Homo sapiens: one gene and its partner. The protein of the gene in region 1 interacts with the protein of each later gene in a pairwise test. Each region holds a gene or a part of one and is shown in the gene's direction. Other genes may lie near its edges.

Region 1 (4,105 bases):
GGGTTTCACGATGCTGCCCAGGCTGATCTCGAACTCCTGAGCTCAGGGAACCCACCTGCCTCAGCCTCCCAACGTGCTGGGATTACAGGCATGAGCCACTGCTGTAATGGCTCCTTTGTATATTAGCTAGAGGCTGAATTCAGTACATGAGAGGGCAGTAACTTATTGCGAAAGTTAAATTGGACCTGTTTGAAAGATATGTGTAAACTGTAGAGTCATACAGGAATGTGAGATATGGGATTATTCATGAGACAGCAATAGGAAATCAAAGTTACCACATAAATGCGGGTGTGGGATGGGAAATAATTTCCTAGATCACCTCCCCAAGATAGGATACTGCGGTAGGTTGCGAAATGAAACTGTGAAGGGGGAGCACATCTCTTTTAAGAACCTTTCTATGGCAGTCTACAAGCTCTAGGTCAATTTTGAAGACCATCCAAGCGTTCTAATGTGCCAGGGTTAAACCCCAAACTCTAAGGAATGCCAATGCCAGGAGGAAAGAATGGATGAGTCGGCAGAACACCTCTCTGGACCCACAATGCCGTAGGAGTCAGACACCCTTCGCCTCCACAACTTCCCAACAGCCTTTGGTGTGAGAAGTGGGTTAATTCATTTCACTGCTGGCTTGTTAGCTGGCGGACGCTTCGGGAGTTCCCACCCCAGGGAGCAGTGCTGACTCTACAGGGGCATCCGGCGGCAGTCGCTGCCAAAAATCTCACCAAGGGGTGAATGGGGGGTCCTCAGGACCTGCGGTGCCGAGCTGGGTAATAAAATACTGCACCTGAATTCTTCTTTAAGGACCAGGAGGAGGTTCGAACCCCAAGAAAGGCTGCAAGCTGAACCAGAAGCTCGAACCCAAAGTTCGCTTCACAGCCAGCCACACTGGCACTCGCTGAATCTGCGCGCCTCGCGAGTTCTGACGATCGTCATGTGATAACTGCCACGCACCTGATGGCAGGGGCCATTGGGTGCTTTGCTTGGTTCCCATTAAAGTCGACTGCGACCCGAACGCAACAAACCTAAGAGTTGGAAGGCGCAAGTTCCTCTGCCAGCGAGCTCACCCTCGGCAACCAGACTGCTGAAAGTGCGCTCCACGCCGGAAGTGCACTAATCCGCAGCACGTGGGGTTGCCAGGGCGCTCTTCACGTGACTGGGCGGAGCCTCGGGAATCTGGTAGCCAATGGTAGCCCGAGAGGGCGGTGCCTGTGACGCTCCGGGGCCTATCCCGGAAATAGGGCTGAGTGGGGGCGGGTAAGGGCGGGGAGGCTGGGGTGTGGAAAGTGTGGCGGCCCCGCCCCGTCTCTTGGAACTGCCGCGGCCGCCACCGCCGCTGCCGGCGCCGCTGCTGTAGGGGACCAGCGCGGGTGCGCAGACGAAAGGCGCTCTTTGCCAGCTGAAAGGTGAAGACCTGGGGAAAAGCTGGTGGGGAAAAGCTGGTGGGGATGGGGCCAGAGTGAGGCAGGGCCGGGGAAGGCGCCCAGAACTGAGCGCTGACCGAGAGAAAGAAGGAGAATGGATGGGGGAACAGAGGCGAGCGCGGGACCCGCCGGGGCTCAGGCCCTAGTGGGGCCGGGCCGGGCCGAGCTGAGCCCTGGATGCCGGCAGAACAGGGGGCGCCTGTGCGGCCGCGGCGGCGACGTTGAAGGGTGGAGGGCGGGGTGCGCGCCAGCTAGCAGAGGGCCGGGTGCTGCTGGCCAGGTTCTGTTACCCCGCATCCTTCGCGGGGACCTGCGGCCTGGGCTGGGTCCCCCGCAGTAGGGTTCGGGGCGGCGGCCGAGGGCTGGGCGGCGGGGGAAGGTCGCCGGCTTCTGCGGTGGGGCGATGGGGGCCGCAACCTGCTGTTTCCAGCACGGAGGAGCGCCCAGGGCGGGTGTCCCCACCCTCAGCGAGCTCCTCTGCGACTTCTCATCCCACCTCCCCAAGCAGTAGCTGGAAAAGTTTGTAGAGGCCAGAGTTAGAAAGTGGCCACTAGTCTAGGGTGGGTGTTCCTTACATGCAGAAATAACGGGCCCATGATGCTTGGCACATAACTTGTCCGAAATGAGACGTTTCCCTGCCTACATACCCGTTGTTAAAAAGCAAACACAAACTTTTTGTGTAGTTCCCACGGAAAAACTACCATCTCCCCTGCCCACCATGGCAGACGAAATTGATTTCACTACTGGAGATGCCGGGGCTTCCAGCACTTACCCTATGCAGTGCTCGGCCTTGCGCAAAAACGGCTTCGTGGTGCTCAAAGGACGACCATGCAAAATAGTGGAGATGTCAACTTCCAAAACTGGAAAGCATGGTCATGCCAAGGTAAGTACCCTTGCAGATCAGGCTTTGGCTTCGGCGTTGGGACTTTGATCATTTGTATTCCGTTACAGATCATGAGATTTCTATACTTAAAATTTTGTAATAAGCACTATTTTTTCCTTCCCACAATTACTGGGTAATCAGTTATTACGTTGAATACTTAAAGGTAGCATTCCCTTCTTGGGCCCTTACAATGTTCATTAACTGGGAACTGAAACTTTCCTGAATCCTAGTGACCTATAAGATCTATTTAGTTTACAGATGAGAAAACCTGTTCTAGCAATTCTAAGAAATCTACACTTTATTTTTCTTGTGTAATCTCATAATTGAATCACTGGTCTATATTGGGTCTTGACATGTCGTGATACTGTTTAGTTGTTTACTGCCTCTTAATTGTAAGACCACTACATTTTTTTTTAAGTAAAATTAGATGACCTTGGAAGGAGGAGAAAAAGAATCTGTTGTAATCAGCATTGGTATTGTGCTCTTGTGTGTGTAATGAGTGATATACTTGGCAGAGATTAAACAGGTTTCCTGTTCTCCTCTGTTAGGTTCACCTTGTTGGAATTGATATTTTCACGGGCAAAAAATATGAAGATATTTGTCCTTCTACTCACAACATGGATGTTCCAAATATTAAGAGAAATGATTATCAAGTAAGCACTGATTTTCTTTAGAATGTTGCTTGTTTCTTCAAGGTGCAAATACTTTGTACTATCAGTAATAATTTGACAAAACCCAAGAGTAGTTTTGTAGGTTTTTCTAACCAATTATTAGGCACCAGCTATCTTAGAAATTGGAGAAATAGTGATGTTTAACACATGTACTTTTCTAGGATTATTGCTAGTTTGCTATTTTTTTCACATTCTTGCATTTTTTAAAAAGTCAAATACTTATTAGTGTTCTCAGGCCAAGTGACTGCATATTGCAATTAAGTCCAATGTTTAGTAAAAGTACTATTCTCTCTGTTGTAAAATATTTCTTGTTCTAATTTAAAACATCCCTCCTGGATGTTTTGTTTCTTTTCACTGATCAGACCTGAGACATTCAAGAAACTACTGAAATTCATGTTCCTACCAAGTTTTTGCATTAATGAATGTTAGTCAGAACTTGACATTCTTAAGTAGAGAAATAAGTTGAAAGCCATAAATATAAAGGATAAAGTACCTGGTCACTGAGTATGGTGAAGAAAACACAAAAACTATATAATTGGTTAAATTATACTTAGTGACCATGCTATGACCTTTTGCTAAATTATGTATGTAAATTTCAAGTTTTAGTTCCAGTTATACATTTGGGTAGGTCATATTTAATGATAGCATTTTGTTGTTTGAAGTATTGATGATAACAAAATAATTGACCTTATAGGATGTGGAAGCTCAGATTACTTATAACTAAAGCTTTTCTTGAAAGTCTTCAATTTCTGTATCAAGCATACCATATATCAAACTCATTTCTGCTCATTTTACATAGTGAAAAATACAAAGTTGACACTGGTATTTGTTTTATCCGACTTAAACTGATTTTTTTCTGTACCCTTTGTTGTATTGTATAAATTTCTTTTAATGTTGCTATCAACTGCACTTACGCAATGATTTCCTTTTGCTGTTTGTCCACATGCAAACATACTTTTTTGTGGTTTTAATCTAGTAAACACTTTTATATTTTCACTTTCCTACTTGTCATAAATGTTTTCTAGGTTGCTTTGAAGTCTTTGTAGAAATTTGAATTGTCTTGCAAGTGGGTTTTTTTAACCAGGTAGATCTGGGTTTGGATCTAGTTCTGTCACTTTCTAGTTGGATGATTT
Region 2 (3,500 bases), on another chromosome or scaffold:
GTGCTTATTACACTGCAAAAATTGATATTTTTATAACATCTGACTCCACCATAAGGCCACAGGCTCCCCAAGAGCAAGGTTTGTGTCTTACTCATATTTGTATTCACAGCACACTTTCTATCCCCAGTACTTCTTCAGGCTTCTAGAACTTTATCTATAAAAAGTGACAGTTGGCTCATCTCCCAAATCCAGTCCAAATCAACTTGCCTGTGATTCTTTCAAGCCCAATATATAAAATAAAGATACAGGGTGGCCCTCTTCAACCACATGAATTTAAGGGCCTCATTAACATGTAGGCATATGAGGAACAACTTCTTTAATCCTTTCTTAGAAGAGGGCAGAACTGCATAGTTGTCTTATTGTCATCTTTTTTTTTTTTTTTTTTTTTTTTGAGAAAGGGTCTTGCTCTGTTGCCTAGGCTGGAGTGCAGTGGTGCAATCACAGCTCACTGCAGCCTCGACCTCCTAGGCTCAAGTGATCCTCTCACCTCAGCCTCCCAAGTAGCTGGGACTACAGGTGTGTGCCACCATGCCCAGCTATTCATTTTTATTTTTATTTTTTGTAGAGATGGGGTCTCACTATGTTGCCATGTTGATCACTCCTGGGCTGAAGTAATCCTTCTGCCTCAGCCTCCCACAGTGCTGGGATTACAGGCATGAGATACCACATCCAGCCTGTCATCCTTCTTCTTTAACATTTACTGAGTATCTTTTCTCAGTGATGTTAAAGTGTCTTTTTGCTAGTAGTTTGCGGGCTTTCCCAGAGCCTCATAAAGTCAGTGGATAAGAGAATCCACCAGTGATTCGTATGGCATCACCCGCTTGGTGAGTGGCAGGACCACTCTCCTGACACCCTCATCAGTGTCCTCTACAAGTATCATTTTTTCCAGGATGGCTCCCAGGATTGAAGGCAGGGAATCCAAGGTATTAGATTTTTGTAGCTATTAAGGCCAAGTAAGCGCCAAATCAGTAAAAACAAAATTAATGAAGAGGCCCTTCTCTTAAAAGGGTCTGCATTATGAAGGTGACCTCTGGTAGAAAATATAATTAAAACATATATAGACCACTGAACTGTATGCTTAAAAGTGGTTAAAATGATAAATTTTATGTATGTTTTAGCAGAATAAAAAAAATGGAAAAAACACAGAACTTTCTCATATATATTTTAGTCTATTATAAATTAATGAGTAATAAGAAAAACTCTAAGCTCAATTTAAACCATTTTAGCCTTAAGAGATAAATCATAATAGAAATAGAAGATTTGCTGTATCTCTTTCCAGTCAGATCTATGTTGATAGATAGGAGAGTCATGAAAGTATTTATATGTATTTGTTTCTTCAACCATCTGTCCATCCATTCATTCCTCCATCCTGTGTTGTAGTAAATGTTTTGTGCCAAGCACTGTGGTGGTAAAGCATCCCTGCCCCTTAGGAACTTACTATCATCTAGCTCCATCTGTGAAATCTTCTTTAATACCCTACTAATCTGTTAAGTAGAATTGACCAGTTCCTCCCTTGTGATTCCACAATCCTTTGTTCATTTAGTTAGCCATCATTCAAATGTTTCTACCACGTGCTGTGTGCTGTGTTAGGAAGGTACTGGGGGTGTAAGGTCAAATAAAAGACAGCCTTTGCTCTCAAAGAACTCAGTAGTAGAGTAGTAAACCAATGATTGCAGTACATTATTATGACGGTGAGGCAATGGAGTTTAAGTAGTGGTGCAGAGAAGAGAGTAGACAAACAATGTAGCCACATGCTGAAGGTGAGAGTGGTTAGAAAGCCCGTGGCTACAGTATTGAAAACATATTGACAGGCATGAGACTAACAGCAGGAGACGCTCTCTTCCTTTTTAATAGAACATCTTGTATTCTGCTATAGTTAATTAACTGTGTGTGTCCTTTCTATAGACTGTGAGCTGTTTGAAATCAGCGTTGATTTTATTCATCTTTATATCCTCCCTGTGTTTTATTCATCTTTATATACTCCATGTGCCTAGCACAGTACCTTGCATATATTAATGTCCTATAGATGCCGAAAGGCGCAAATGAATTGCAGAGAATGGTGAAACCAAGTTGAGTGACAAAGGCAGTAGAATATGAATATCCTCAATAATCAACTGTCAGCTAGAAACAGGCAGCCCCCTATGAGAAGGTAACATATCTTGGCATGCTCATACAATCGCTGTTCTAGAAAATATTTCAGTGACTTTAACCCTCGAAGCTGTTCTCAAGATGTGGGAACACACTGATTTCTAATACTGAACAGTTCCTAAATCGCAATCACAAGTGTTTTAGGGGCTCAGTGCAGCTTTAAAACAATAGCCCATTATTCTAAGACACATCCTGGCAGAGGGGAACCGTGTCCCTAGGTTTGAGGCAGAGAAGAGAAATAGCCTTTGTCCCAGCAAAAACCGTAACATCTGTACAGTGGCCTTTAGCATACACAGGCTTTCATGTGTATCATCGAAGAGCAGCTGCAACTGCAGATCAAAGGAGAGCCTTTGTGTGCTGCTGATTCATGGCAGGGACTACGGGTCACTCAGCAGTCTCTTTAGCTAAGCTAGTATGAGCAGAGGGTGACAGCAATGGATTCATCCTCTTTGGATACAGATGCACATTTTAGTTAGTCTTTGGTGGCAACAGCAGCATGGGAGCATGGAATGAGTCCTCAACTGGAAATAGAAGGCCTGGATGCCATGTCCTAGCTTTGTGAATAACCAGTTAGTTAAGGGACAGTTTCCATTAATACGGGGAGGTGTACACTTGCCTACCTCACTGGATTGTTGTAAAGATTAAATGAGACCATCAGTAAATATTTGAGCACCTCCTATTTGCCAAGTGCTCTATTTGCTCTAAATGGACCCTGACGTCTCCCTCATGAAGCTTTCAGTTTAGTGGGAAAGATGGCTATTAAACAAATTATTACAAATAAATGATTCAGGCATGTCAGGTGCCATGAGGGAGAATGACAGGATGTATCGCAAGAGAGACTGTGTGGGGTGGGGGGGTGGGGAACCTAGCCTAATCTGAAGGTTCTGGAAAGCCTTCCTGAGGAAGCAATCTTATGTCCCTGGACATGAATACACCTGTGACCTGTGAAATTCGTGCAATTAGAAGGAAAGATTATTGTTTTTGTTGATGTTCTTATTTCTCAAGGCCTTGTGTTTTGTTCTACACTTAGCAGCCACCCTGGAGAATAATTCGTTTTCAGTAGTTGTCTACTCTGTGCAGGGAAATTGACAAGTATTGTCTTCTTCTTTGTTATTAGAATTATTAGTTATTAGGACTTAGAACTGGTAGATAACTGCAGAAAAAGTGAACCTTCAGCAGGTTGTGTGTTATTAACCACTTTTTATAAAGAAATAATCAAAGCCCAAAGAGATTAAGTGACTTGGCCAAGGTCATAGAACTTAAGAGACCTGAAGGAAAATTATATTGTTGTCTGCCATGGCATGATTCCTGTTTTCTTTAACAAAGATAATACCTTAATACATCCATTTGAA

The links. Proteins that work in one complex are often made in the same cells at the same time.
Region 2: the proteins of EIF5A2 (region 1) and RAB30 interact in a two-hybrid assay, tested with the Homo sapiens proteins (one large-scale study listed by BioGRID and IntAct).

The regions. Positions count from the first base shown.
Region 1 is NC_000003.12:170,905,838-170,909,942, reverse strand, and holds the start of EIF5A2 (eukaryotic translation initiation factor 5A-2), read left to right. Parts: upstream 1-1,305; 5' UTR 1,306-1,400; intron 1,401-2,101; 5' UTR 2,102-2,136; coding exon 2,137-2,301; intron 2,302-2,849; coding exon 2,850-2,954; intron 2,955-4,105. UniProt on the Homo sapiens protein: Translation factor that promotes translation elongation and termination, particularly upon ribosome stalling at specific amino acid sequence contexts.
Region 2 is NC_000011.10:82,988,398-82,991,897, reverse strand, and holds part of RAB30 (ras-related protein Rab-30), read left to right. Parts: intron 1-3,500. UniProt on the Homo sapiens protein: The small GTPases Rab are key regulators of intracellular membrane trafficking, from the formation of transport vesicles to their fusion with membranes.